2 linked regions of the Homo sapiens genome follow. The main gene of each other region encodes a partner of the protein of the gene in region 2 in a complex. Each region holds a gene or a part of one and is shown on either strand. Other genes may lie near its edges. A codon is read from its position in the direction of its gene.

The links.
Region 1: the proteins of CFD (region 2) and CFB are in contact, whole or in part, in a crystal structure (PDB 2XWB), measured with the Homo sapiens proteins. Residues at the interface, in NP_001919.2 of Homo sapiens: Asn157 (codon at 8,165), His158 (codon at 8,162), Ala159 (codon at 8,159), Gly160 (codon at 8,156), Arg161 (codon at 8,153), Arg162 (codon at 8,150), Arg182 (codon at 8,090), Thr183 (codon at 8,087), Asp186 (codon at 8,078), Arg200 (codon at 8,036), Val228, Cys229, Gly230, Asn231, Arg232, Lys233; in NP_001701.2 of Homo sapiens: Glu298 (codon at 2,479), Ala301 (codon at 2,178), Ser302 (codon at 2,175), Ala332 (codon at 2,085), Asp333 (codon at 2,082), Ile469, Asp470, Glu471, Ser472, Glu518, Tyr519, Lys585, Asp758, Glu759, Asp760.

What each region holds. Positions count from the first base shown.
Region 1 is NC_000006.12:31,936,691-31,950,554, reverse strand, and holds the start of CFB (complement factor B preproprotein), read right to left. Parts: upstream 4,461-13,864; 5' UTR 4,334-4,460; coding exon 4,270-4,333; intron 4,183-4,269; coding exon 3,949-4,182; intron 3,549-3,948; coding exon 3,363-3,548; intron 3,208-3,362; coding exon 3,034-3,207; intron 2,814-3,033; coding exon 2,712-2,813; intron 2,611-2,711; coding exon 2,474-2,610; intron 2,182-2,473; coding exon 2,043-2,181; intron 1,726-2,042; coding exon 1,594-1,725; intron 1,313-1,593; coding exon 1,211-1,312; intron 1,136-1,210; coding exon 998-1,135; intron 506-997; coding exon 408-505; intron 270-407; coding exon 152-269; intron 1-151. Other genes in the region: complement C2 isoform 1 preproprotein, read right to left, coding at 5,198-5,377, 5,526-5,575, 5,702-5,828, 6,329-6,420, 6,562-6,638, 6,746-6,911, 7,028-7,139, 7,236-7,330 and 3 more.
Region 2 is NC_000019.10:854,112-869,974, reverse strand, and holds CFD (complement factor D isoform 1 preproprotein), read right to left. Parts: upstream 10,312-15,863; 5' UTR 10,286-10,311; coding exon 10,231-10,285; coding exon of another isoform or gene 10,210-10,230; intron 9,359-10,209; coding exon 9,202-9,358; intron 9,115-9,201; coding exon 8,970-9,114; intron 8,277-8,969; coding exon 8,019-8,276; intron 6,884-8,018; coding exon 6,737-6,883; 3' UTR 6,334-6,736; downstream 1-6,333. Other genes in the region: MED16 (mediator of RNA polymerase II transcription subunit 16), read left to right, coding at 1,029-1,112, 1,476-1,559, 1,724-1,874; ELANE (neutrophil elastase preproprotein), read right to left, coding at 13,811-14,017, 14,181-14,411.

The sequences.
Region 1 (13,864 bases), on a different chromosome or scaffold from region 2:
CCTAACTTCACGTCTTCCCCCATCCCTGACTGGTCTGGGGTGCAAGGAATGGGGCTGCATTGAGGATGGGTGGAGTGTAGGATCTGTAGAAAGTGGGAGGTGTTGCCTGGAGAGCATAGGTGCAGCCCAGGACCTTCAGTTGCATCCTTACCTACGCTGACCTTGATTGAGTGTTCCTTGTCATCCACAGTGAAACAATGTGCTGCTGTCAGCACAAAGTACTCAGACACCACAGCCCCCATACAGCTCTCGTGTCCCTTTGAAGGGCGCTGGGGACACAACAGTAGAGAGGGAAAGCTCAACTTTCACAAACCACCATCTCTTATGGCCATTTTTTCCTTCCCCTACTCCCATTTCACCTTGACCTCACCTCCCCCAAGTCCCCACTACTGGGATTCTGTGCTTACAATGACTGAGATCTTGGCCTGCCATGGTTGCTTGTGGTAATCGGTACCCTTCCTGTGTTCCCAAACCATGCCACAGAGACTCAGAGACTGGCTTTCATCTGGCAGAGAAGGAGAATGTGCTGAAAACTCGGAACACTTCATTCCCAAATGGCAGCAGCCTTTTGGGTAGGAGTCTATGGGGAGCAAAGGCCCAAAAGGAGAAAGGGAAAGACCACGGGTATTTGTTTCCTCGTGTTAGGAGAAAACTGCTATGGTGGACTGAAAAGGGAAAGAACTTGGGATCAAGCTGTCAGAGGCCTGGCTGTTTTCAAGCCCACCCTTGTTGCTAACTTGCTGTCCCTTGACCTCCTTTGGCTTCTGTTTCCACGTGTCAAATGTAGGACTATAGAAAGATCTCTGAAGTGCTCAGAGCTCTGTGATTCTAAGGTTAAGTGAACAGTGCCAGGAAACAAGAATAGTGACACTGAGGTAGAGAAGGAGGAATGAAGAAGGCTTTCCAGGCAACTAGAGCTTCAGGTGTAGAGGAAGAATGAATTACTTCAGGGGAACCTGAGGAGAGTTGTGTTCTTTATTCCCTTGTATCTCCCTACCGATCATTTGGTAGAAAACATCTTCCAGGTTTTCCATATCCTTGACTTTGAACACATGTTGCTCATTGTCTTTCTTGGAAGCCAAAGCATTGATGTTCACTTGGTTCACCAAAGGCCCGACCCCAAACACATAGACATCTGAGGGATAAAAAGGAAGGATGAGGGTCCAAGCCCTGAGGAAGTGGGGTGCTGGGTCCTAGGCAGGTTACTCACCCAGATAATCCTCCCTTGGGTTTTTGCGATCCTTGCCAATGTATAGCAAGTCCCGGATCTCATCAATGACAGTAATTGGGTCCCCGCCCATGTTGTGCAATCCTGCAGAAGAGACAGGACCATGAGGGTAGGAGATAAGGAAGATAAACTGGCTAAAGGCAGGGATACACATGGCAGGGTGAGCAAGTTGAGGAAGGGTTAGAGATAGTTGATCACAGGGCTTAGGAAGAATTCCTTATGAAGGGTCACAGGAGAGATGAACAGCCAGCTATGAGTCACATTCAGGGCCCCAACCATGGGTATAGTGTTACAAGTGGACTTAAGGGCCACATGCTGGTCTGAGAAGGTGGGGAGGCTGGGACAGGAGAGAGGTCCCTTCTGACCATCAGTCATGAGGATGATGACATGGCGGGTGCGGTTCCAGCCTTCAGGAGGGACGTCATCTGGCCAGCTCATCATGCTGTACACTGCCTGGAGGGCCTTCTTGGTGTTAGTCCCTGACTTCAACTTGTGGTCTGTGGAGAGGGAAGAGACCATCACCTCACCTGGTCTTCCAAGCCATCTTTTAACCCCAGAGACCAATCTGCAACTGAAATCCCACATCTTTCAACTTTTTAAGTTAATCATCATTACACGGACTTCCCTTTGACCACAAAGTGGCCCTTCCAGCCCCCAACAGGTTCCCACTAACCTCCATTGCCCAACGATCCTGCTGTTCAACTTTTGACTACAAAGTGGTCCTCCCTGTCGCCCTCAAGGTAGTCTCATGACCCCCTCCACCCTGAACCTCCTGACCCCAAAGTGAACCTCCCACCATTCCCTAACCTCTGACCTTCATAATTGATTTCATTGAGCTGCTTCGTGACCCAGTCTGCATTACTGCTGTCTGCTTCAGACACTTTGACCCAAATTTTGGGGTATGTGGCATATGTCACTAGACCATATCTTGGCTTCACACCATAACTTGCCACCTGTGGGTGAGGAGAACAAGGCGCCATGGCATTGAAAATAGAATACTGTGATTGGGAGATTTCAGCGACTTTGCTGGGACAGGGAGGCTCTCAGTAAGAGGCTCAAGGGCTGAGGTTCATGGAGGAATTACCAGTCAAGAAACTGCTTCAAGTAAAAGGGAAGGAGGACAGAATAGGACCTGGAGATTTTCCTGGGGCCCTGTTGTTCAGAGGGGCTGGAATGATCAGGGAGCTAGTCCTGGAAGATCAGCGAGATTCCATTCCCCCGAGTTCAGGGATAGGAGGATTCCACCTTCTCAATTAAGTTGACTAGACACTTTTTGGCTCCTGTGAAGTTGCTGGCCCCAATGCTGTCTGATCCATCTAGCACCAGGTAGATGTTCATGGAGCCTGAAGGGTCCAGGACGATCTTCCGCTTCTGTTGTTCCCCTGGGTGCCAGGAGAGTGGCTCAGGCTCCAGCATTAACAGTTCTGTCCCTTCTCCATTTTCCCCCAGTTCCCTGCCCTGCCTCCCTTCTCTGTCTTCAAACCTGGGCCGTGCCCATCCTCAGCATCGACTCCTTCTATGGTCTCTGTCAGGGAAGACAGGAAAGCTTCGGCCACCTCTTGAGGGGTGTCGTACATGAAGGAGTCTGGGAGAGTCAGAAATGAGGTCAAATGTCTGGGAGTGTCAGGGATACAGTGACCAAAGAGACGGGGGATCATGGGTTTCCAGGGTATAAAAGGCTCAGAAGTGAGATAGTTGTACAGGGAGGTTTAAACAAAGTGAGGAAAGAGCAGGGTTGAGGTGGGGAGAGAAGACAGTAGGATGGAAGACCAGGATCTGACCTGGGGGTACAGGTCAAAGGTCACCTTGGCAGGAAGGCTCCGTCCCGCTCCAAGAGCCACCTTCCTGACACGTTCGCCGCTGGGAGCCACGCAGGGTAAGCCCCCGGCTGCAGTGGTAGGTGACGCTGTCTTCAAGGCGGTACTGGCTGCCCACCTTCCTTGTGCCAATGGGGATGCCCGGGTTGGAGCAGTACCCCGCTGCAGAGGTATGAGACATCGAGGTAAGCACTGAAGCCTGAGGCCCCGTGAGCAAGGTAGAGAGCAAGAGTTACAGTGTCCGGAGCCGAGTGCCCACTCCTCGGGCTGGGCGCCGTCAGGGAGACAGCAATGTAGGGGGAGGGGATGCTTCTCACCTCCGTTGTCACAGATCGCTGTCTGCCCACTCCATCGGCCATTCACTTGGCAGGTGCGATTGGCAGAGCCCCGGAGAGTGTAACCGTCATAGCAGTGGAAAGAGATCTCATCACTCACATTGTAGTAGGGAGACCGGGGCCAGTATTCCCCGTTCTCGAAGTCGTGTGGTCTTGGACAGTGGATTGCTTTGAGAAGGGGGGACAAGTAGAAGTCATCAAGAGGGAAAGGCTGCCTTAGGTGTATCCCTCCTGGTCTCGGAGACCATGTCACTGAGAAACAGCGCATTCCCAGTCCCGCAGAAGCAGCATCTTACCTACTCCTCAACCCATATGGATTTCCACTGCTTCTCCCTCCCCATTTCTGAGTGTTCTCTTGACTTCCAGGGCTGCCTGGAAGCCCAGGGTAAATGCTTAGTAAGGGTTAACTCCGCTTTTTCTTGCCCCCTTTCCGCCTGCCACCCTAAAACTGCTCCTACTCCCGGTCAGCCCACCTTGTCACCCTGCCTAGTCTCATCCTAGTCCTGACCTTGCTGCCGCCTGCCCTGTTTCTGCCTTAGGCCACTGCCCACACTCATTGCCCTCAAACCTCTGCACTCTGCCTTCCTGACAGTCTTTTGGTCTTGAGTCTTCAGGGTGCTCCAGGACCCCGTAGATCTGCAGGTACGTGTCTGCACAGGGTACGGGTAGAAGCCAGAAGGACACACGTACTCCAGTGCCTGGCCCTCTTGGAGAAGTCGGAAGGAGCCGCCTTTGATCTCTACCCCCTCCAGAGAGCAGGATCCCTGGGGCCGGGCCAAAGACCATGGAGTGGTGGTCACACCTGAAGAGAAAGGCTGATGAAGCCTGGCCCCAAAAGGCCAAGGAGGGATGCTGGAGACAGCAGGAAGGGAAGGTTACCCTCGCTTACCTCCAGACAAGAGGCCCAAGATAAAGGGCATCAGGCAGAGTTGGGGGCTGAGATTGCTCCCCATGGCGTTGGAAGGCAGGAGAGAAGCTGGGCCTGGGGCAGGATGGTGTGTCCTGGCTTGCTTTGCTTGTCTGCTTGGCTCAGTGTCCAAGCTGAAACTCCAGACCTAGACCTGGTCACATTCCCTTCCCCTGCTCCCCACCAGCCCCCAGCCTTTTATACAATCTGTGTTCTGGCACCTGCGGCTCGCCCCGCCTGTCCTACCCACATCACTTTCCCGGAACATCCAAGCGGGAGGGCCCCGCTGAGCTGCCAGTCAAGGAAACAGAAACTGCAGAAGTCCCACCCTTTGCTGCCAAAGGTCCAGGACTCTCCCCTTCAGTACCTCCTCTCCGGCCTTAGCTCCTCCCCAGTAAGCCCAAACCACCCACTTAGGGACCAGAAATAAGGATCCAGCTCACTCCCCTGTTGATTGTGTGTTATGGTGCAGAGTCCAGCCACTGTTTGTCCAGTGGGGTCTCTGACCTGCCTTCCTGTAGCTCTTGGAGTCATTCTGGCCTCCCCCTCCCCCAAGGCCAGCCCTACCTGGCCTCCAGATAGAGGCACTGAGAGATGTGGAAACCATTGATTTTTATTAATTTCATAACTGGGAAATTCCATGTGAAAGTGAAACAAGCATGAGTCAAGTCAACCAGGGAAGGAATCTGGGGACAGGCCAAGGAGCGGGAGGTGGGGCAGCGAGGCAGTCCTGCTGGTAGGAGCCCTGAGGATTTCCCAGCTTGTGTGCGCTGCCTCTGGCATCCTAGAGACCCGGATTTACTCAGCTAGGAGAGAGGATGGATCACAGGGTCTAAGGGTGGCCATTCAGAGGTAGAAGATGGAGGGGCGGCAGATTCTGGCAGGGCAGCAGAGGGCTCAGTGGCCATGGCTAGAGGGGTAAAAAATTCAGGACATCCCCCAGGTGCTGCCTCAGCCAGGGCTGCATGCGGAAGAGATTGATGTGAAAGTCTCGTGGCGGCGGGACCTTGCTACGAGGGGCCCTTTTGCGGGAGTTTTTGTCAGCAGAGCCAAGGCAGGGGTTGTAAAGACCCCAGCTCACCAGACCCACCTGGAGAAAAGGAGAGAACTGGCTGGGAGGCTGCCACAGCCCCAACTGTAAGCCCCAACCTCCCTAGATCCCTCAAAGGCCTCCCTCATCCCCCCAACAAGGCTGAGATCCTGTAACCCCTGGGTCCTGCAAGCTTCTACCTTCTCACCTGAAAAAACCTGAATCTCCGCTCAAGGAAAACTGCTCCCCCAGATTCTCCTGCCAGCAAAGGGTGACAGGAGACAGTGTCATCTAGGGCAGTGGACTGGTGTTCTGGCATGCATGCTGGCCACAGAGACACAGGTGGCCTTCCCCTTGGGAATCCAGGCATGGTGAGGGACTCACCCTTGCAGGGACTCTCATCCTCCTGGGTCCCACTGCATAGGAACTGGTCTGTCACCACCTCCCTGACATCTGTCAAGTTGGGGAACATGGTTTTTTCTTGGGAGACAACCTCGGCACAGCTTGTCCACTGCAGCAGGGGTGGAACCAGAGAGAAGGGTAGAATAAGCAGACCCGGGTGGGTGCAGTGGCTCACGCCTGTAATCTCAGCACTTTGGGAGGTTGAGGCAGGCAGATCACTTGAGGTCAGGAGTTCAAGACCATCCTGGCCAACATGGCGAAATCCCGTCTCTACTAAAAATACAAAAATTAGCTGGTGTGGTGGTGGGCACCTGTAATCTCAGCTACTCGGGAGGCTGAAGTAGGAGAATCGCTTGAACCCAGGAGGCAGAAGTTGCAGTGAGCTGAGGTCGTGCCACTGCACTCCAGCCTGGGAGACAGAGCAAGACTCCATCTCAATAACAACAAAAAAAGAATAAGCAGACCCAGGGACACCTAGCAGGTTTGTGAGGCTTGGGAGGAGGGGTGACCCGCGTCAGAGAGAGAAAGCAGCCAGACCTGGAGAAGGAAGAGAGACATTCTGGGAGCTGTCACAGGGGGATCCCAGCATCCCCAACCTGAGACCCTCACCTCCACTCCCATCTTAAGGTTAATGTTCAGTTTGCTCCCATTCAAGGCGACAAAATGAGCAGGAACACTCTGTTTGTTCAGCAGTTCATTCTCTATAGTCAAGAGAAGGGGATGTTGGTGCTGGTCCTTTTACCCAGAATCCAGGTTCCTGGCTTGGGGACTGCAGCCTAGTCCTTGTTATCACCCCCAAACCCCGGCCCCAGCTCTCAAGCACCATAAGTCCCAGCACTCACCATGGTCCCTACAGGTGCTGCCTTGAGGTCTCCGCAGAGCCAGATTGGCCTCCATCGTGCAGGGAAGGCAGATGGGCCTGGGGAGAAGAGCAAGGGTCACACCAGCCTGTCCCCAGTATCTCTTCCAGGGATCTCCAGAGCACTCTTCCCTGCAGGGCACCCTCCCATCCCAGACTCCAGGCACCTGGCATGGGTGGACATCTTTACTTTCTGGGCCAGCTTCAGCAGAGCTATGTCATCACCATAGAACTCCAGGATTCCCTGGTTCTTTTTGGCAAAGACATCAAACCCTGGGGAGATCACCGCCTTCTCAATAAGGAATTCTTTGCCCCACTGGGATTTGGGGTCTCCTGGAAATGATACACTAGATTAGGCTAGACCAGGGCTCCTGCAGGGGCCAGAGGCTGGGTGAGGTGGTAGGATCTGTGGCTTCAGGATCAGGAGGCTGGTGCATCCCCTGCCTTACCCACATTGACCCTCCACAGGGAGTGGTCGTTGCCATCGCGGAAGCAATGAGCTGCTGTCAGGACCCATTGGTCGGAGATGAGGGCCCCCCGGCAGGTCTCTTGGCTCTTGGGCTGCAGGGGAACAGGTGATTTTCAGAGATTGCAGTATGTCTGGCCCATGGCCGCTTTTACCTCTGGAATCCAAGCCCTGCCCCTCCTTCCTGGTACCTTAATAGTGACATGCCAGGGTGTCCTCTCCTGGTCAGAGGCGTTTGCTGACATGTTCCCCACCCCGCAGATGGTGTCTGTGAGCTTGGAGACATCTGTGGGTGTGAGGATCAGATGGGGAAGGAGGCAAGTGAGGGGCACTGTGTCCAGGTTCCCAACACGGGCCTCTGGCGGGCTCCTCACCATCCTCCCCACACCAAGGAGGGCAAAGCTCACTCACCCAGCATATGTTCAAAGACCTGGTGCAGAGCCTTTGTGTCCTGCAGAATGAAGGCATGCCTCTCACCATCCTTCTTGGACCCTAGCTCATTCAGTTCTCTCCAGTCCACATCCAGCTTGCCCACCCCGATGGCATAGATGTCTGGTGGGGAAGAGGGAAATCACCAGACTCCTGTGGCTTTGGGGCTACCCCATGAGACAGGAGGCTGTCATCTGAAACTCACTGTGTCCAATCAAGACCTACATGAGCTGGACCCCTGCGTCCTCCCCACTGCTACCTGTCTGCCTTCATTTCCTGCCACTCCCTGCCCTTCACTCTCCTGCAGCACACAGCCTCTTTGAAGTTCCTCAAATCCATAGGCATGGTCACACCTCAGGCCCTTTGCCCAGCTGTGCCTCTGCCTAGTTCACTCCTCCCCCCCAGACTTCCACATGGCTCACTTTCGTACCTTTTTAAGTCTTGGCTCAAATGTCACCTTCTCAGTGAGGCCTTCCCTGGTCTTCCTGTCTAAAACTGCAATGCCCCAGACAAACTTTCATCCCCACTTTGGGAGGCAAGGTGGGAGGATCCCTTGAAGCCAGAAGTTTGAGACCAGCCTGGGCAACATGGCAACACCCCTTAGCTTGTGTCACCTACCACCTGCTGGGTTCTATGGTTTTCTTATCCTGTTTATTCCCTGTAATGGTGGAATTGTGTCCCCCAGAAAGATGTGTTCGAGTCCTAATCCCCAGTATCTGTGACTTTATTTGGAAAAAGGGTCTTTGCAGATGTAATCAAGTTAAGATTAAGTCATACTAGATTAGGGTGAGCTCTAATCCAATGACTGAGGTCCTTATAAGAAGAGGTAAGCCAGAGCCAGGCGTGGTGGCTCACACCTGTAATCACCAGGAGGCGGTGGTTGTGGTGAGCCAAGATCGCGCCATTGCACTCCAGCCTGGGCAACAAGAGCAAAACCCCGTCTCAAAAAAAAAAAAAGAAGAGGTGAGCCGGGCACGGTGGCTCACACCTGTAATCCCAGCACTCTGGGAGGCTGAGGCGGGCAGATCACGAGGTCAGGAATTCAAGACCAGCCTGACCAACATGGTGAAACCCTGTCTCTACTAAAAATACAAAAATTAGCCAGACATGCTGGCACACACCTGTAATCCCAGCTACTCAGGAGGCTGAGGCAGGAGAATCGCTTGAACCGGGAGGCGGATGTTGCAGTGAGCCGAGATTGCACCACTGCACTCCAGCCTGGGCAACAGAGCAAGACTCCATCTCAAAAAAAAAAAAAAAAAAAAAAGTGAACTGGCTGGGCATGGTGGTGACTCATGCCTGTAATCCCGGCAGTTTTTTTGAGGCGAAGGCAGGCAGATCGCCTTGAGGCCAGGAGTTTAAGACCAGCCTAGCCAACATGGCGAGACCATGTCTCTACTAAAAATACAAAAATTTGCCGGGCATGGTGGCACATGCCTGTAATCCCAGCTTCTTGGGAGACTGAGGCACGAGAATCACCTGAACCCAGGAGGCAGAGGTTACAGTGAGCCGGGATCCCGCCACTGCACTGCAGCCTGGGCTTCTGGGTGACAGAGCGAGACTCTGTCTCAAACAAATGAACAGAAAAAGAAGAAAGGAATTTGGACACAAAGACACAGGTAGTGGGTCTCCTATCTATATAAGAGAACAGCATGTAATGACACAGAGGCACACACAGAAAAGAAGGCGAGTTGAAGACAGAGGCAGAGAATGGGTTTATGCTGCCGCAAGCCAAGGTTGGAGCTGCCGGCAGCCGGAAAAGGCAGGAAAGAATTCTTCCCAAGAGCCTTCTGAGGAAGCACGGCCCTGCCAACACCTTGATTTCAGACTTCTAACCTCCAGAACTGTAAGAAAAAGAAATTCTGTGTTCTAAGCCACCCAGGTTTGTGGTAGTTTGGTAAGTACTTTTAAATGACTGAATGAATAGAAAGAACTCAGAACACAACATGGAAACTAAACCTCAGATCTGGTCTTCCTCTGTAAAAGGTAGCATCTGGGAGAAGGGCCTAAAGCCACGTTTTCCCACTGGAGGCCCTGGACCCACACAACAGGCCGCGCCTGTCCTCCGACTGTGGTGCCAGTCAGAACTGCCCTCAGACAGACCACAGAGTCTACTCCTCTCCCAGCCTTTGCACCCCTTGTGGCCCATTTTTGTTCTCAGAGAGCCCCGCGTTGTGTGTAAAAAGCAAGGTGCTTAGGTGGACCAAGAGATCTTCAGCCAGGAGGCAATCTGGCAATGGCCCAGATAGAAACAGTTACAGTTGGAGCTAGACAACGATCGTGCCTTGTGCGTTTTCTTTGACTATTTTCGTTTGGTTTCCTGCTTATTTTCAATAAAATGTTTTTGTAGCATTTGACCTTGGTCCAGTGATGCTAAGGAGGAAGGGAGTGGGCTTTAAATTTTGTCTTCCTTGGGCCAGAGTTTTAAAGAGGAATCAGCTTACCCCCGAGGGCCAGGTGATGGGGGAGGGGGCAGTGTGAATGGAAAGGAGAGGAGCTAAGGGGAAGATGAAAGGTTGGGGCTCAAAACCAGCTGCCCTCCCTGTCTGAGCATCTCTCTCTCTGAAATTACTTTCTGATCAAAGGTCAGTGCAATTTGTGTTTAGTCTGAACCTGAGGAATTTTTCCTTTAGAGGCTGCAACTGCCAAAGCCTTAGTTAGCCAGCTGTGCTGCTGAAAGAGCAACCACCAGGGACATTCCCCAGAGGGAATCGAGGTCCCTTCTTCCTGGAAAGTTTCCTGAAACATGAGATGCTATGATGATGATGATGATGATAACGACGACGGTCGTGGTCATGGCTAACATATGCTGGGCATTTTTCTATGCCAGGCAGGCAGTGTTTGTCTGAGCATCTTCCCCTGTCAGCTTGTGAGCTGGGTCCTAGTACTACTCCCCTTTTGCAGATGAAGAAACTGCCCATGGCCACAGCCCACTGAAGATGAAACCAAGGTTCTCTGTCTAAAGCTGTTGATTAAAAATAATAATTAAAAAATTAAAAATTGGCCAGGCACAGTGGCTCACGCCTATCTGTAATCCCAGCACCTTGGGAGACCAAGGCAGGCGGATCACTTGAGGCCAGGGGTTTGACACCAGACTGCCAACATGGTGAAACTCTGTCTCTATTAAAAATGCAAAAATGAGCCGGGCATGGTGGCACACACCTGTAATCCCAGCTACTCTGGAGGCTGAGGCAGGAGAATCATTTGAAGCCAGGACGTGGAGGTTGCAGTGAGTTGAGATCGAGTCACTGCACTCCAGCCTGGGCAACACGGCAAGATTCTGTCTCAAAAAAAATTTAAAAATTAATTTTAAAAAATTTGTGAAGACGGGCTGAGCATAGTGGCTCATACCTGTAATCCTACCACTTTGGGAAGCTGAGTTGAGGGGATCACTTGAAACCAGGAATTTGAGGCTGCAGTAAGCTATGATTGCACCACTGCACTTCATGGTGGCATGGTGGACATCGTTACTTTCTGGACCAGCTTCTGGGCCGGCATGGGTGGACATCTTTCCAGGAATATACTCTGAGTGTCAGTGAGACACTGTCTTAAAAAAAAAAAAAAAAAAAAAGAAGGTAAGGTTGAGACCATGGGCAGTAGTTTGACCCCAGGCTCTTCAACATGAGTTGCCTTTGTACAGAACAACGCAGAAATAAAACCATGTGGCTCTGGACCATAGCTAAGATGCTGGGATCCCTGGCTGAAGATCTCATGACCTCTGCAGGAGCAGAACAAATGTGGTGGCAGTGGCAGGGGCTCACCCAGATAGTCATTCCTCTTCTGGTTGATGTTCAGGATCTCTCTGATATGGTCAACAGCTGTCTTGGGAGAGCCACCCATATTGGACTTTCCTAGAACAAAGAGAATAAAGAATTCTTCTAGGTAATATCAGGATTTCCCCAGGCCCTGGAAGAGTAGGAAAGCATTTAGCCTGGGAACCTCAACATTTACATTGCCTGTGAGAGCTTCAAAATATACTTTTAGGCTGGGCATGGTGGCTCACACCTGTAATCCTAGCACTTTGGGAGACCGAAGAAGGCGGATTGCCTGAGCTCAGGAGTTCCAGACCAGCCTGGGCAACATGGTGAAACCCTGTCTCTACTAAAACCACAAAAAATTAGCCAGGTGTGGCCGGGCATGGTGGCTCATGCCTGTAATCCCAGCACTTTGGGAGGCCAAGGCAGGTGGATCACCTGAGGTTGGGAGTTTGAGACCAGCTTGACCAACATGGAGAAACCGCACCTCTACTAAATATACAAAATTAGCCGGGTGTGGTGGCACATGCCTGTAATCCCAGCTACTCAGGAGGCAGGAGAATCGCTTGAACCTGGGAGGCGGAGGTTGCGGTGAGCCGAAATCGCGCCATTGCACTCCAGCCTGGGCAACAAGAGTGAAACTCCATCTCAAAAAATAAAAATAAAAATTAGCCAGGCATGGTGACACATGCCTGTAGTCCCAGCTACTCTGGAGGCTGAGGCACGAGAATTGCTTCAGCCTGGGAGGCAGAGGTTGCAGTGAGCCGAGATCGCACCACTGTAGTCCAGCCTGGGCAATAGAGTGAGACCCTGTCTCAAAAAAATAAATATATATATATATATATGTATGTATACATATATATATATATACATACATATATATATATACACACTTTTACTGAAATGTTCTACATTCCAGGCACCAGGCCAGGTGCTTCCTATACTTTAACTCATTTAATTCTCATGAAACCCCAGGTAGAGTGGGTATCCTCATTTTATATACTAAGTCCTGGAGGAACTGTGTAATTTGGACAATAGCAAGAGGCAAATGACAAGGCCAGATCCACTACAGACTGTTCCTTGCATCCGTGCCCTTCGACATTCCTGCTCAAGAGCCACGTTTCCTCATCTATCTCCAAGTTACCTCCCAGATGGTAACAAGAGCTAACACAGAGCACTTTCACACAGGCAACTTAAATAGCTTTCCATAAAAATTGTGTAAGGAAAGGAGGACAGCCATCATGATCATCATTGCTGTCATTGTGGTTACGGTCATCATCATCAACACTAATTCTATTTATTTATTTATTTTATTTTGAGACAAGGTAGGATCTTGGTCTGTCACCCAGGCTGGAGTGCAGTGGCATGATCTTGGCTCACTGCAACCTCTGCCTCCCAGGTTCAAGCAATTCTCCTGCCTCAGCCTCCCAAGTAGCTGGGATTACAGGCGCCTGCCACCACACCCAGCTAATGGTTTTGTATTTTTAGTAGAGACGGGGTTTCACCATGTTAGCCAGTCTGATCTCAAACTCCTAACCTCAAGTGATCCACCCGCTTTGGCCTCCCAAAGTGCTGGGACTACAGGCATAAGCCACCACACTGGCCCTATTTTATAAATAAGAAACTGGGCCAGGTGTGGTGGCTCATGCCTGTAATCCCAGCACTTTGGGAGGCTGAGGCAGGAGGATTGCTTGAAGCCAGGAGTTTGAGATCAGCTGGGCAACATAGCAAGGCCCCATCTCTAAAAACAAAAACAAAACTGGGGCCCAAAGTGGCAGGCAGAGGGAGAATCAGAATTCAGGGCTTCTGACCCCATATTGGTGCCCCTTCCACTATTCCAGACACACTCAGAGACCATGATACCCACCATCTGTCAGAAGGATGATGGCATGTCGGATTTCCTGCCAGGCCATCGTTTCCATGCCGAGGAGTCGCATTTGGTTGTTCATCATGAGATAGACACTGTTTAAGGCCGCATAGGTGTTAGTCCCAGTTCCATTTTCATGATCTGGAATATGCCAAAAGGAAGGACTCTCTTAGAAACTTCCCACCTACCACCTAGGGGTAGGGAATCACTCTATTCCCCCAATTATTGGAAATGCAATTTTTTTTTTTTTTTTGAGAGAGTCTCGCTCTGCCACCCAGGCTAGAGTATAGTGGCGTGATCTTGGCTGACTGCAACCTCCACCTCCCCAGTTCAAGTGATTCTCATGCCTCAGTCTCCCAAGTAGCTGGGATTACAGGTGCCAGCCACCATGCCCAGCTAATTTTTTGTATTTTTAGTAGAGATGGGGTTTCACCATGTTGGCCAAGCTGGTTTCCTGACCTCAAGTGATCCGCCCATCTCAGCCTCCCAAAGTGCTGGGATTACTACAGGCATGAGCCACTGCACCCGGCCTGGAAATGCAATTTATCGATTGTTTTGATAAACTCAGACATTTGCCATTCAGATAGAGATGTGGCATCATTGCTTGTTCAAACTTTAAAAGCCTTTCCACCTTAGAAATGTTCATTGCATAGGGCCGGGCAAGGTGGTTCACGCCTGTAATCCCAGCACTTTGGGAGGCTGAGGTGGGCGGATCACAAAGTCAGGATCACGAGACCAGCCTGACCAACATAGTGAAACCCCATCTCAA
Region 2 (15,863 bases):
CCTTGTCACCCCATTTCACGGTGAGGAAACCCAGCCTGGAAAGGGTGGGACCTTGTCACCCCACTCATCTGGGGTCACGCGGTCAGGAAGTGGCCGAGTCAGGATTTGAACCCAGGCCCGTCAGACCCCCAGCCTGTTTCAGACACACGTTTGACAAGGAGCACATGCAAACCCTCTGAGCCACTGATTGCTCAGGGCTGGAATTTTAGAAAACACAGATGAGCAAAAGGAAGAAAATGAAGTGAACCTCCAGCAGCCCTGCTCCGGGGAAGGCCCCGGCTCGGCTCCAGGACCTCCAGGGAAGGCACCCCCGGCTTGGCTCCGGGACCTCCGGGAAGGCGCCCTGGCTTGGCTCTAGGACCTCCAGCATTTTCTTCCTCGTGCTCACTGTGGGAGGGGCCTCCTAATGAGTCACACACGAGGGTTTGGGTTTCAGGAAAAGACTTGATGGAAAGAGAGGACGGTTACGTCAGAGGCTTGTAAACTGGGAAAATTTCAGATATTTAATGAGAGCAGAATAAGCCGGCCCACCCCCACCCAGACCCAGGTCCCCCACCCACCACCGAGGGCAGCTTTTGCCACCAGAATCTTGTCGTTCAGAGGTCCCGGCACCTCCAGGCCGGGTGTCTGGGCAGAGGTGGTGTGGAAGTCCCCATGTACCTGCTTCTGTCCAGCCTCAAATGGGAGCGTCACAAGCACCTTCCCTGCACCTCAGGCTCCCCGGGCACGTGGCGGACCGACCCTCGTCCCTGTGTGGGCCCCGTCCCCTTTACTGGGTCTCTAAGCCTCAAGCTCCCCAGGCACCTGGGAGACCAACCCTCCTCCGTGTGGGGGGTCCCGCCCCCTTTACTGGGCCTGTCTCAGGTGGTCCCGCACCTCCCACCTCACTGTTCACAGACATCTGGGCCCACCTGGCAGATGGTGTGAGGCCGGCCATTCCCTCCACCCCCGCCTGTGGACAGATGCCCCTGCCGGAACCTGGCCTCGTGGTGCCCAGGCCTCCCTCACGTTCTCCCCTCTCCCGCCAGGGCCCCAGGCCAGCCCAAGATCGACCACCTGCGGAGGCTGCACCTTGGCGCTTGCCCCACGGAGGAATGCAAGGCCTGCACCAGGTGAGGGGCCCCCGGAACCGCTGACTCCCAGAGATGTGCCGCTGGGGATGGCTCAGCTGATTCTAGCCCCCACCCAGCGCTCCAGACGGTCAAGGGTGGTGGAGGGAGCACGTCCCAGAGGGAGTGTTGGAGCCAGGATCCCAGGATGTGGAGCAGTTAACTTGGTGTGGCGGGGCTAGTTCAGGGAGCAGCATTGCTGGGGGGAGGAGAAGCATGGGCAGAGGCCCTGTGGCAGGTGGGGACGTGGGGAGCAGGCGTGAGGGACGGCGAGCAGAGGGAGACCTGCCTGGAAGCAAAAGTGGGGCAGGCGTAAGGGAGGCCCGCCTGGAAGTGGGAACCCGCTCAGTGCCTGCCTCCCCGCAGGTGCGGCTGTGTCACCATGCTCAAGTCGCCCAACAGAACCACGGCGGTGAAGCAGTGGGAGCAGCGCTGGATCAAGAACTGCCTGTGCGGTGGGCTCTGGTGGCGGGTGCCCCTCAGCTACCCCTGAGCCCAGCTGCCCCTCAGCTACTCCTCAGCTACCCCTCAGCTGCCCCTGAGCCCGGCTGCTGCAAGAGCCACCGCTCGCCCTGGACTCTCCTCGGCGCGGTTAACCTCAGCCCGCCCTGCAGGGCTGTTGAAGGCCGTGGGCCGGACGCCTGCGTGACCAGCAGAGCTTCTGAGGAAGCCCCTGCCTTTGTCCAGCTGGGCCCGCAGTCCACACACCACTCTCCCAGGACCCCCAGATCCCTGGACCATCTGCATCCAGAGGACCGTCCGTGACGGCCGGGGGTCCAGGCGGACCTTGTGGTGACCCGGCTCGGGCGTCTCCTCGGTTTCCTTGCCTCACCCGCGGAGAGCGCTGAACCTGGACAAGCAGCGGCTGGGAAGGACAGGTCCAATAAACGCCCTCTGCGCCCAGGCCCGCGTCCCTGCCGTCGGTGCCCCCGACCCCACCCACGACCTCGATTTGGTGCCGGGAGCCTGTGTCCTCTTGGCCTGTCTTTAAATCCTTCAGCATTTATGGGGCACCTAGTGGATGCCGAGTCTGGGGGTATCCAAAGTGAGCAGTGGGGACAGGACACAGCAGGCCGGTGGATGGGATGGGGCGGCCATCGTCAGGGTGGCTTCTGTCCAGGCATCTGCCTTTCAGTGTGTTGTCTGCCTGTCTCTATACTGTCTCTGCGTGCTCTCCTTGTTTCTGCGTGTCTCTGGTATCTCTGCACTTCTCTGTGTATGGTCTCTGTGTCTCTGCATGCTGTTTCTGTGTCTCTGCCTGACTCTGTCCCTGTTATGTTTCTCCAGCTGCTCTCTGCTGGAGGTTGCTTAGCCCCTGGGCCAAGTTTCTGCCGTTTCTGTTGCTGTCCCCAGGGGTCCCGCCTTCCGTCTCCAGCAGGCCTTCCCAGCACAGTGGTGCCCCTGCTGTGTGCCGACGGACTCCTCCTTTCTGCAGCTCTGGGGAGGGCAGCGAGGGTGGGGTGAGTGCCCAGTGCCGGCTCGCGAGGCGGGAGCTCAGGCACCCCGTCACCTGGCTGAGGCACTCCCACTTTAAGGCCCCCCCACTTTAAGGCCCCCCCACTTTAAGGCCCCCGTCCTCGGCCGCAGACTCCAAGCTCTGCTGGGACACCGAGCCCCGTCTCACCGTCCCCCTGGCCATCCTCTGAGGGACAGACCCTAGGGCAGCTCCCGGCCCCACTCCTGCGACCTCCTCTCGAGCTCAGGAGTGTGTGGGCCTCCATCTCCCCCAGTCACTCAGCATGTGTGGGGCGCCTTGTGGATGCCAGGGGTGTCCAAAGCAAGTGACAGACAGAACACAGTGGGCCCTGGCGGGTGGTTGGGGGCGGCTTTTGTCCGGGTGTCTGCGGCGTTTCCATGTGGCTCTGCAGAGACCAGAGTGCAGGAGCGCTGGCGAGGGGTGCGGGCCCGCAGTGGGTGGACGGAGAGGAGATGGGAGCGCTGGCGAGGGGTGCGGGCCCGCAGTGGGTGGACGGAGAGGAGATGGGAGCGCTGGCGAGGGGTGCGGGCCCGCAGTGGGCGGACGGAGAGGAGATGGGAGCGCTGGTGAGGGGTGCGGGCCCGCGGCGGGTGGACGGGGAGGACATGGGAGCGCTGGTGAGGGGTGCAGGCCCGCGGCGGGTGGACGGGGAGGAGATGGGAGCGCTGGCGAGGGGTGCAGGCCCGCGGCGGGTGGACGGGGAGGACATGGGAGCGCTGGCGAGGGGTGCAGGCCCGCGGCGGGTGGACGGGGAGGACATGGGAGCGCTGGCGAGGGGTGCAGGCCCGCGGCGGGTGGACGGGGAGGAGATGGGAGCGCTGGCGAGGGGTGCAGGCCTGCGGCGGGTGGACGGGGAGGAGATGGGAGCACTGGTGAGGGTGCCCATGCGTTGTGGGACGCAGGCTCGTGGGCAGCTTCAGGGGCCGGGAGATCAGAGTCACCCAGTGCCCGACTCAGAAGTGAAAATGCCTCTAGCTGACCCCAGCCCCCCGTGGTTCTGGTGACCTGGCTGAGGTCTGGACGCGTGGAGTGGGGACAGGATGCCCCCTGGTCCCATCAGTTCCTGACCACTTGAGCCGGGGTGGGCTTTGCGTCACTAGGTGGGGGGGGGGTCTGTCAGACCACTGTCACAAGCTGGCTGTCATGAGCTTCTACCTCACTCAGGTACAGTGGGGTGGGCGAGGCAGGCAGGGCATGGGGGTGCTGAGAGGCGGCCTGTGGCCCTGAAGCTCTGCTGTCCCCGCCCCCGGCTTCCCAAGGTCCTCGTCGCCTCGCGGTTCCCCCAGGGGTCCTCAAAATCTCCCTAAGAGCCAGGGACGTTGGGGCCCCGAGATACAGATGAGGAAACAGAGGCCATATATATGGCAGTGCGGAGACTGGACCGCGTCTCAACTCAGAGGACTATGTGGTGCCCAGATGTTCCCGTCCTGCATCCTCCCCACCACTCCTGTTCCACCGCCTCCTAAACCGTCTCCTCCTCCGGAACCCTCCGTAGCTCCTGCGGACCAAAGGATGCAAAGATGCCCAGGCAGGCCGGATGCAGCAGCTCACGCACCAGCACCATAAGAGACCCAGGCAGGAGGATCACTTGAGCCTGGGAGTTCAAGACCAACCTGGGGCAACATGGCGAGACCTCATCTCTACAAAAATCTTAAAAATTAGCTGGGTGGCCAGGCGAGGTGGCTCATGCCTGTAACTCCAGCACTTTGGGAGGCCGAGGGGGGGCGGATCACCTGAGGTCGGAAGTTCGAGACCAGCCTGACCAACATGGAGAAACCCCGTCTCTACTAAAAATGCAAAATTAGCCGGGCGTGGTGGCGCATGCCTGTAATCCCAGCTACTCGGGAGGCTGAGGCAGGAGAATCGCTTGAACCATCAGGCAGAGGTTGCAGTGAGCCGAGATCGTGCCATTGCACTCCAGCCTGGGCGACGAGAGAGACTCCGTCTCAAAAACAACAAAAACAAAAACGTGAAATTCACACAGTGAGCTCCAACTTCGTGGTGGTCACCAGACGGCTGAATGGGCCCCCTTCCGTGCAGTGCAGTATTTACCAAATTCCTAAGAGCAGGGCTGGGGCTTAGATGTGTCTTACCGTGCCCGGCCCAGGGCTCTGCACACAGTAAGTGCTCAATACGTGCTTGCACGTCAGTGTGATTCCTAGGTGAGTGTTCCATAGCCCCAAAAACACCCAAGCACAGTGTTCATCAATCCATCCCCCCTTTTCCCAGCGGACCTGCCTCTCAGATCATCAGTCTTTTTTTTTTTTTTGAGATGGAATCTCGCTCTGTCACCCAGGCTGCAGTGTAGTGGTGTGATCTCCACTCACTGCAACCTCCACCTCCCGGGTTCACGCCATTCTGCCTCAGCGTCCCGAGCAGCTGGGACTACAGGTGCCTGCCACCACGCCCGGCTAATTTTTTGTATTTTTAGTAGAGACGGGGTTTCACCGTGTTAGCCAGGATGGTCTCGATCTCCTGACCTCATGATCTGCCCGCCTCAGCCTCCCAAAGTGCTGGGATGACAGGCGTGAGCCACCGGCACCCGGCCCATCAGTCACTTTTTCTTTTCTCTTTTTTTTTTTTTTCTTTCTTTTTGAGATGGAGTCTCCTTCTGTTGCCCAGGTTGAAATGCAGTGGTGCTATCTCGGCTCACTGCAAGCTTCACCTCCTGGATTCAAGCTATTCTCCTGCCTCAGCCTCCCAAGTAGCTGGGACTACAGGCATCCGCCACCACGCCCGGCTAATTTTTTTGTATTTTTAGTGGAGATGGGATTTCACCGTGTTGGCCAGGATGGTCTCAATCTCCTGACCTTGTGATCTGCCCGCCTCGGCCTCCCAAAGTGCTGGGATTACAGGCATGAGCCACCGCGCCTGGCCCATCAGTCTTTTTCTACGATAGCGCCTGGCTGCCCCTCCACCAGGTGGGAGAAAGGGCACAGGGCCTCAGGTGTCCTCCCTGGCCTTGCCAAGAAGGGTGACCTGAGGTCCAGGGCCTCCAGCAAGCAGGTGCCGCTGCTCGTCGTCCTGGTGTGGGTCTGGCCGCACCCAGGGTGGTTTGTGAAGGCAGGCTCCGTGGCTCTGGGCTCCAGTCCAGGCTGTGTCCTGGAGCTTCTGTGTAAGGTCAGGAGAGTCGCACAGTCCCTGTGAGCCTCAGTTTCCCCTTATGGGATATGGGTCATAGGAACACGGCCTCGAAGGGTTTCTGTGCACCTGAGTCTCAGCCCACAGCCTTGCACACAGAAGACGCTCACATTCCCCTTGGTAAGCAAAGGGAAACGGTATGAGCCAGACCAGGAGGGGACACCCATGCCTGGCGGGCCTTCGCGCGTGTGTGTGTGTGTGTGTGGCAAGGGCGCCGCCGTGTGGCCGCGTCAGCCCCACGGAAGCGCTGGACCCGGAACTTCGCTGTATTCTCCGTTCTTGCGCTTTTATCTGTAGCTTCCCGCGTTCCTCTTTTTTTAATGTTTCTGTTTTTGTTTTGAGACAGAGTCTCGCTCTGTCACCCAGGTCGGAGTACAGTGGTGCGATCTCAGCTCACTGCAACCTCCGCCTCCCGGGTTCAAGCTATCCTCCTGCCTCAGCCTCCTGAGTAGCTGGGGCTACAGGTGCCCACCACCACGCTCAGCTAATTTTTTTTTGTATTTTTAGTAGACACGGGGTTTCACCATGTTGGTCAGGCTGATCAGGAACTCCTGACCTCAAATGATCCGCCCGCCTCGGCCTCCCAAAGTGCTGGGATTACAGGCGTGAGCCACCACGCAGAATTTTTTTTTTTTTTTTGTAGAGAGAGACAAGGTTTCACTCTGTTGCCCAGGCTGGAGGGCAGTGGTGCAATCACAACTCACTGCAGCCTCAGCCTCCTGCGTTCAAGTCATCCTCCCACCTCAGCCTCCTGAGTAGCTGGAACTACAAGCACCCACCTCCATGCCCGCCAATTGCCCAGCTAATTTTTTATTTATTTGTAGAGATGGAGTCGCGCTACGTGGCCCATGCTGATCTCGAACTCCTGAGATCCAATGATCCTCCCACCTCGGCCTCCCCTTCTGCATATAGTAGGTGCTCAATAAAGACCAACCAGATGCAGGAGTGGATGACTTCATTGCTCGGGACTTTGTTGCTTGGGTGACCCTGACCTTCAGGCCCCGGCACCCTAGGCCAGGACGCTGTCGATCCAGGCCGCATAGCTCGCCACGCGGGTGTAGATCCCGGGCTTCTTGCGGTTGCCGCAAACGCGCGAGCCCGAGGTGACCACGCCCTCGAGCACGCCCCCGCACACCAGCGGGCCCCCGGAGTCACCCTGCCGGAACAGGACGGGGCCGTGAGGGGCGGCCCGCGCCCACCCCGGCCTCACGTGTTAGACCCCCTCACCTGGCTGCCGCTCCCGCCCCACAATGCTCGCTCATCCCTCCCGTGTTAATTTGGTCTTCACTAGTCAATAGCCCCGCGCCACGCCTATCGCCTAGGCCACAACCACAAGCCACGCCCCTCTAGGCCCGCCCCCAGCTCCTGGCCACACCCCCTCTGGCCTCAACCTCACCACGTGTTCCCCCGACCCCACCCCGCTCCAAGCCCTTTCCAGTATGGGGGTCCCACACCTCATTCCTGCTCTTCCAAGCTTTGACTTGCCGTGGATCCCACTTCTGCCCTAACGCGTCTCAGTGGCCACCTGCTCTGCTCAGTCCCCACTCACCTCAGGCCACGCCCCTCCCTTAAGCCCCACCCAATCTTGGCCCCGGCTACCATGCAAGCCTCGGCTGGTCTTAAACCTCTGCCCTGCTCAGGACCCCTTCTCTTCCCTGCCACAGCAGGGATCCCGCTCCGCACCAGCCCTGCCCCTTCAGAGGTTCCCGCCCCTTCCACCTGCCCCGCCCCGTCCCCATGCCCCGCCCCTTCCTCCACGTGCCCGCCCCCTATACCTCCCACCCTTTCTCTGCCACCTGCCCTTTTGCCCGCCCTGACCCTTCTCCAGCCCCACCCTCCCCACAGGTACCGCCCCTTCCTCCATGCCCTGCCCCTCATGCCCCAACCCTCTTCCTGGCCTCGCCCCCTTGCAGTCCCGCTATTACTGGACTCCGCCCCCTCCTCGAGCCCCGCCCCCTATTCCCACCCTAACCCACAGGTCCTTCCACATCCCACCCGTTCCTGCCCTTTCTGCCCGCCCTGACCCTTCTTCAGCCCCACCCTCTCCAGAGGCCCCGTACCTTCTCCAGGCCTCGCCCCCAAGGCCCCACCCTACCCACATGCCCCGCCCCCTCATACAGGCCCCGCCCACGGGCCACCCTCATGCTCCGCCCATCTTCCAGTTCCCGCCCCCTACGCGCCCCGCCCCTTCCCTGGGCCCTGTTCCTACTTGCCCCCCGCTTCGCGCTCCCTCTGCAGGCCCTTCCCGGGGCCTGCAGGCCCCGCGTCTCCTCCCAGGCCTGAAGGCTCACCTTGCAGCTGTCCCGGCGATTGCTCTCCGCGCACATCAAGCGCTCGGTGATGGCGCCGTCGTGGTGCGTGCGCCGGTTGCAGGTGGCGCGGTCCAGCACTGGCAAGAGCACGTGCTGCAGGCTGTCCGGGCGGCGGCCCGCGTGGTTGACTATGCCCCAGCCGGCCACGTCGCAGAGAGTTCCCGGTGCCACGTCGCGGTCCACGCGCTGCCAGGGCAGGGGGCGCACAGCAGGGCCCAGTGTGGCCTTCTCCGACAGCTGAGGGTGGAGGCGGACGTCAGGGTTGGGGTGCGGGGGTGCGAGGCTGGGGAGAATGCCGCTAGGCTCGGGGAGACGGGACGGGGGAGGTGGGCATCAGGGCAGGGGCGTGGGTCTCAGTGCAGCAGGAGAGATTTAGGCTAGACCCTGGGTGGGGGTGCAGGTGGGGATGGGGTGGGTGCGAGGCTCACCAGTGCAGCTGCAAAGGTCGAGGCTGGAACCGGGATGGGGATGCAGGGGGAGCGGGGGGTGGGGGGCTCCCAGTGCAGCCGCAGAGGTCGAGGCTAGACCCGGGGTGAGGGTGCGGGGGTTGTAGGGCGGGGTCCCCATGCAGCAGGAGAGGTCGAGGCTGGACCCGGGGTGAGGGTGCAGGGGGTGGGGGGGCTCCGAGCGCAGCAAGAGAGGTCGAGGCTAGACCCGGGGTGAGGGTGTGGGGGTTGTGGGGCGGGGTCCCCATGCAGCAGGAGAGTTCGAGGCTGGACCCGGGGTGAGGGTGCAGAGGGTGGGGGGGCTCCGAGCGCAGCAAGAGAGGTCGAGGCTAGACCCGGGGTGAGGGTGTGGGGGTTGTGGGGCGGGGTCCCCATGCAGCAGGAGAGGTCGAGGCTGGACCCGGGGCGCGGTGTAGGCGGGGTGGAGTGAGGGTGGGCCGGGGATCCCAGCGCCGCAGGAGGGACTGCGCTACACGGGGCCGACCTGTAGCAGCAGGAGGTCGTGGTCGATGGTGTCGGGCTGGCTGTCCGGGTGGGGCACTGCGCGGAGCACGTCGTACAGGCGCTTGGAGGGCTCCGGCTGCGACAGGGAGTGCGCGCCCAGGAGAACCTGCACCTTCCCGTCGGCCCTGGGGACCGGACGGAGTCCGCGGTCGGTGCCAGCCGACTCCCCCCACCGCACCCGGGCTCTTCCCCCGCGCGGCGCGGGCACTCACGCGTCCTCCAGGCAGTGCGCCGCGCTCAGCACCCACTGCTCCGCCACCAGGACGCCGCCGCACAGGTGCGCGCCGTTCAGCTGCACCGACGCCATGTAGGGCCGCGCGTGCGCCTCGGCCTCTCTGCCGCCCAGGATCCGACCACGGGGCGGCGCCGCTGTGGGTGGGCGGGCGCGTGAGGGCCGCGGGGTGGACTCCTCCCCCGGGCGAGGCTGCCTGACGGGATCCCAGCTCTCACCCCCCAGGCCGCTCCCCGCAAGAATCCCATCTCTGGGCGCGGTGGCTCACGCCTGTAATCCCAGCACTTTGTGAAGCCGCGCGGGGGCGGGGGGGGAGGGGGGGGTGCAGATCATGAGGTCAGGAGTTCAAGACCAGCCTGGCCAATATGGTGAAACCCCGTCTCTACTTTAAAAAAAAATACAAAATTTAGTCGGCGTGGCCTATAATCTCAGCTATTCGGAAGGCTGAGGCAGGAGAATCGCTTGAACCCGGGAGTCGGAGTTTGCAGTGAGCCGAGATCGCACCACTGCACTCCAGCCTGGACGACAGAGCGAGACTCCCTATCAAAAAAAAAAAGAAAGAAAAAAAAGAATCCCGTTTCCGTCTTGGGGCCCCTCAGCGTTGCAAACTCAGATACCCTCGGGCGGGAATGCCCCAGAGTACAGAACCCACAGTGGGCTGGGGACCGGGGGCAGATCCCAGCGCCCTACCCTGGGCGCAGTGCCTTCCAGTTGGACATAAGAGAAATGGGGCTGACCCAGCCAGTGCCTGGGCCAGCCCAGTCAGCCACGCAGATGAAGTTTTCCACGCAGACGTTCAGACTCTGTCTGCAAGAAAAGCTGACTCCAGAAAGTTCCGATTTCCAATCTGAATTTTCTAGAATTTTTCAGCGTTCAGAGCCTTCCATTAGTGAGGAGAGACACCCCCTTCCTGCCCACCTGGAGGGGCTGGAGGACCGTCCGTGTGACGGAAGGGAGCACCACGCCCCTACACAGCCCTGTCCCTCACCCCAGGCCCAGGCCTCCTCACCGCAGGCGGCCGCTCCTAGGAGGACCAGAACTGCCAGGCGCTCCCAGCTGTGCATGGTGAAGCCGCTGTGGCTGAGACACTGACCCAGGCAGGGCCCTGGGGGTGCTTTTATGAGGGTGGAGGGGGCGGGCCGCTCCCCGGGTGGGCAGCGGCCCAGCTGGGGAAAGGGGAACTCGCCCGCCCAGCCTCCGCCCTCCCCGGGACTGGGTTACCTCCTGCCAGACTCACACCAGAGTCGACAAGTCGCTGGGAGACCCTCGGGCCTCTGTGAGCCTGACAGCCTGCTGGCCCTGGTGGGGGGCAGTCCCTCAGATGGGCAGGAGGCAGAGAGGGGGGCTGCACCCACCCCGGCCCCAACTTCACCACACCCAGAGTCCCCCAGGGTGTTTCACAATCCTAGCTGGAGGCCACAGCGTGTAAACAACCCACTTTCTTGTCCTGCTACCCTCCCTTCTTTTCCTCCTCTATATTAGAGAGAAGGTCTGTTGGGGGTAGGAAGGTCACTTGACACCTTTGTCTCTGTCCCTGTGGCCTCTGGGGCTTGACACCCTGACGAATAGAAAGTTGGAAAGGCCAAGGCAGAGGCAGCTGGGAAGACTGGCTACAAGGGACAGGAAAACCCAGACAAACTGGGTGGAGCCTGAATCATGAAAGTTATATGGAAAGTTCAGGGATGTCCGCCTTCAGGTGTGGCTTGATCCAGGTGCCTGAACAATGTCCAGTGTCTGCTTCTGGCTTCTCCTTTCTTCTCTGATGGCTTCTTTCCTCACCAGCCTCCCCTGGTGTGTTTCCAGGGACCCCACACTCAACCCAGTGGCTCAGTGGGCCCCTCCTAAAATTCTTCCTCACTCCAGCCAAGTCTCAAGGGTGCCTTGGGTTGGTGGAGCCTGGATCACACGCCCCCTCCCAAACTGTTCACTGAGGGCAGGTTCTGATGAACAGAGTCAGGGCTGGCCGGGCACAGTGGCTCCCACCTACCATCCCGGCACATTGAGAGACCCAGATAGGAGCATCTCTTGAGCCCAGGAATTCAAGGCCAGCTTGGGGAAGACGGCGAGACCCCATCTCTACAAAAAAATTAAAATAAAATACTTCTCAGAATCTGGGCCATAGGGCCTTTTGTGAGGTGGGGATTTGTGTGTGTTGTTTTTGTTTTATTACAGACAGGGTCTTGCTCTTTCATCCAGGCTCGAGTGCAGCGGTGCAATCATAGCTCACTGCAGCCTCCTCGACCTCCGGGGCTCAAGTGATCCTCCCACCTCAGCCTCCAGAAGTGCTGGGACTGCAGGCCTGCTCATGGTGTAGCTCCATTTTTCACATCTGCCCCACAGGGGCCAGCGGGATTCACGTTGCATTAATCCATGGTGCGGGGACCAGAAGGATGGGGATACCTTGTGGGGAGGACCTCAGACATTGTCCCCAGGGGGAGCAGCACACGAGGTTCCCCCGGCTTTTCTCTTCACCATGGATCATTTCTTTCTTTTCTTTCCTTTTTTTTTTTTTTTTTGAGACGGAGTCTCGCTCTGTCGCCCAGGCTGGAGTGCAGTGGCGCGATCTCAGCTCACTGCAAGCTCCGCCTCCCGGGTTCACACCATTCTCCTGCCTCAGCCTCCGGAGTAGCTGGGACTACAGGCGTCCGCCACCACGCCCGGATAATTTTTTGTATTTTTAGTAGAGATGGGTTTCACCGTGTTAGCCAGGATGGTCTCGATCTCCCGACCTCGTGATCCGCCTGCCTCGGCCTCCCAAAGTGCTGAGATTACAGGTGTGAGCCACCACGCCTAGCCTCATTTCCTTCCTTCCTTTCTCTGTTTTTCTCTTTCTTTCCCTTTCTTTTTCTTTCTTTCTTTCTCTTTCCTTCTTTTTTTCTTTCTTTCTTGCTTTTTTTTTTTTTTTGCGACAGAGTCTTGCTCTGTCGTCCAGGCTGGAGTGCAGTGGCACAATCTCGGCTCACTGCGACCTCCACCTCCCGGGTTCAAGCGATTCTACTGCCTCAGCTTCCCGAGTAGCTGGGATTACACGCATGAGCAACCACACTGGGCTAACTTTTTGTATTTTTAGTAGAGACAGGGTTTTGCCATGTTGGCCAGGCTGGTCTCGAACCTCTGACCTCAGGTGATCCGCCCACCTCGGCCTCCCAAAGTGCTGGGATTACAGGCATGAGCCACCATGCCTGGCCCCCTGTGGATTATTTCATACGCACAGAGAATAGAAAATGATATAACAACAGGGCTGGGCGTGGTGGCTACGCCTGTAATCCCAGCACTTTGGGAGGTCAAGGCGGGCGGATCACGAGTTCAGGAGATCGAGACCATCCTGGCTAACACGGTGAAACCCCGTCTCTACTAAAAATACAAAAAATGAGCCGGGCGTGGTGGCGGGCGCCTGTAGTCCCAGCTACTCGGGAGGCTGAGGCAGGAGAATGGCGTGAACCCGGGAGGCGGAGCTTGCAGTGAGCCGAGATCGCGCCACTGCACTCCAGCCTGGGCGACAGAGCGAGACTCCATCTAAAAACAAAAAAGAAAAAAACACAATGTGGGGAAGTCACTTCTGCTCCATTGCCCTGGCTGTGCTGCCCCCTGGTGGTGGCTTACTCCAGAGATGCCCAAGAGACTCTGGATTCTAGTTTGTTGTTTATTATTATTATTATCATTATTATTTATATTTATTTATTTATTTATTTATTTATTTATTTATTTATTTATTTATTTTTGAGATGGAGTTTCGCTCTTGTTGCCCAGGCTGGAGTGCAATGGAGCGATCTTGGCTCACTGCAACCTCCACCTTCCAGAATTCAGGTGATTCTCCTGCCTCAGGCTTCCCGAGTAGCTGGGATTACAGGCATGCACCACCACGCCCGGCTAATTTTGTATTTTTAGTAGATATGGGGTTTCTCCATGTTGGTCAGGCTGGTCTCGAACTTTAGACCTCAGATGATCCGCCTGCCTGGGCCTCCCAAAGAGCTGGGATTACAGGCACGAGCCACCGCACCGGTATTTTTTTTTTTTTTTTTTTTTTTTGAGACGGAGTCTCTCTGTGTTGCCCAGGCTGGAGTGCAGTGGCGTAATCTCGGCTCACTACAGCCTTCGCCTCGCAGGTTCAAGCGATTCTCCTGCCTCAGCCTCCCACGCGCCACGACGCCAAGCTAATTTTTTTTGTATTTATAGTAGAGATGGGGTTTCACCACGTTGGCAGACTAGTCTTGAACTCCCGACCTCAGGTGATCTGCCAGCCTCGGCCTCCCAAAGTGCTGGGATTGCAGGCGTAAGCCACTGGGCCAGGCTTGGACCATTTTATTTTATTTTATTTTATTTATTTATTTTTTTTTAATGGAGCGGGGGTTTTGCCATGTTGCCCAGGCTGGTCTTGAACTCCTGAGCTCAAGTGATCCGCCTGCCTCAACCTCCCAAAGTGCTGGGATTACAGGTGTGAGCCACCACGCCCGACCTACTGACCATTTTCAACACCCAATCACACAGCCAAGGAGCATCAAACACATTCTACAAAACAGAGAATGTTTATTGTGCCAGATGCTGGAGAGTGTGGGTGTGGGCAGCTGAGGTGACCCGGGCAGCCCTTCTCAGTGGGTCCTGCTGGCCGGGTCCGGGTCCCGGGGGTGGGGACAGGGGTTGTCCTCGGAGCGTTGGATGATAGAGTCGATCCAGTTTACAAACTGTGCCACCGGGGCAAAGGCATCGGGGTAGAGCCCTGAGGCGCAGCCTCCCCGGACGAAGGAGGCAATTCCGTGGATTAGCCCGTTGCAGACCAAGGGGCTGCCGGAGTCCCCCTGTGGAGGCAGACAAGGTGGGGAAGCTGGACTGCGAGGCCCTGCCCACCTGCCCGCCGCCTGTCAGGGTTGGGAAGTCCCTCCTAGGGTCTAGCCACGGTGCCTGTTGCTGCAGTCCGGGCTGGGAGCGGGTGGGGAGCAGAGGGACACCCAGGGCACGTACGAAACAGACGCCGGCCTGCCGGCCCCTCACGAGAGTGCAGACGTTGCTGCGACGGCAGAGGGACGTCACCACCGTCACGTTGAGCTCCTGCAGGACGCTGGCGATCCCACGGTTCCTGCCCAGAAGGCCCCAGCCCATGGCCAGGCACTGCACCCCGTTGCCCAGGCGGCGTCCCTGAGCCGGCAGCTGGGCCACCTGCACGTTGGCGTTGATGGTGGCCGACCCGTTGAGCTGTGGCGGTGGGGACAGATCGTCAGCGCGTCACACGGGGCAGTGATGATGACCCTCCCCTCTCCGGGCCTCAGTTTCCCCATCTCAGGTTCCACTGTGGTTCTGGGATCCTGCAGGGCAGGATACCCACCCCACACTCTGCTCCCCAAGGCAAGCCTCGGTTTCCCCATCTGTAGAGTGGGAGCCGTCACCAAGGCTCAGGGCGTTGGAGGTTGTCCCTGGATGTGGCTTGAGTGCAGGAAGCAGTAGGTGCTCAGTTAACAAAAAAACTACAGCCGGGCGCGGTGGCTCATGCTTGTAAGCCCAGCACTTTGGGAGGGCGAGGCAGGAGGATCACTTGAGGCCAGGCATTCAAGACCAGCCTGGGCAATGTGGCAAAGCCCCATGTCTACAAAAATAATAAAAAAAAATTGCCAGGTGCGGTGGCTCACGCCTATAATCCCAGCATTTTGGGAGGCTGAGGTGGGCCAATCAAAAGGTCAGGAGATCAAGACCATCCTGGCTAACATGGTTAAACCCCGTCTCTACTAACAATACCAAAAATTAGCCAGGCGTGGTGGCGGGCGCCTGTAGTCCCAGCTACCTGGGAGGCTGAGGCAGGAGAATCGCTTGAACCTGGGAGGCGGAGGTTGCAGTGAGCTGAGATTGTGCCACTGCGCTCCAGCCTGGGCGACAGAGCGAGACTTGTCTCAAAAAATATATATATATGTGTGTATATATATATTTTTATTATTTTATAAAAATATTTTTATATATTTTATATTTATTATTTTATAAAATAATAAATATTATAATTATAAATGATATTTATAATTATATAAATATTATTATAATTATAAAATAATTATAAATATTATATATTTTATTTAAATAAAATATATATTTATTATTTATAATATATGTATGTGTGTGTGTATATATATATATTAGCCAGACGTGGTGGACCCACGTGGTGGCACCTGTGGTTCCAGCTACCCCCCATTCCAAGCTGAGAGGGTGGCTTGAGCCCAGGAGATGGAGGCTGTAGTGAGCTGCGATCGCGCCACTGCACTGGGTGAGAGCTATGAGAAAACTTAGTGACAAGGAAACTCTCCCTCTAACCCTTCCCAGGGAGGAATCTTTTTTTTTTTTTTTGAGACCCAGGCTGGAGTGCAGTGGTGTGATCTCAGCTCACTGCAATCTCCGCCTCCGGGGTTCAAGCGATTCTCCTTCCTCAGCCTCCTGAGTAGTTGGCATTACAGGCACCCACAACCACACTCGGCTAATTTTTTTTTTTTGTATTTTAGTAGAGACGGGGTTTCACTATGTTGCTCAGGCTGGTCTCGAACACCTGACCTCGTGATCCACCCGCCTCAGCCTCCCAAAGTGCTGGGATGACAGGCCTGAGCCACGGGGCCCGGCGCCCAGGAAATAACCAGAACTGCAAGCCGCGGACAGGGGTGGAAAGGTGGG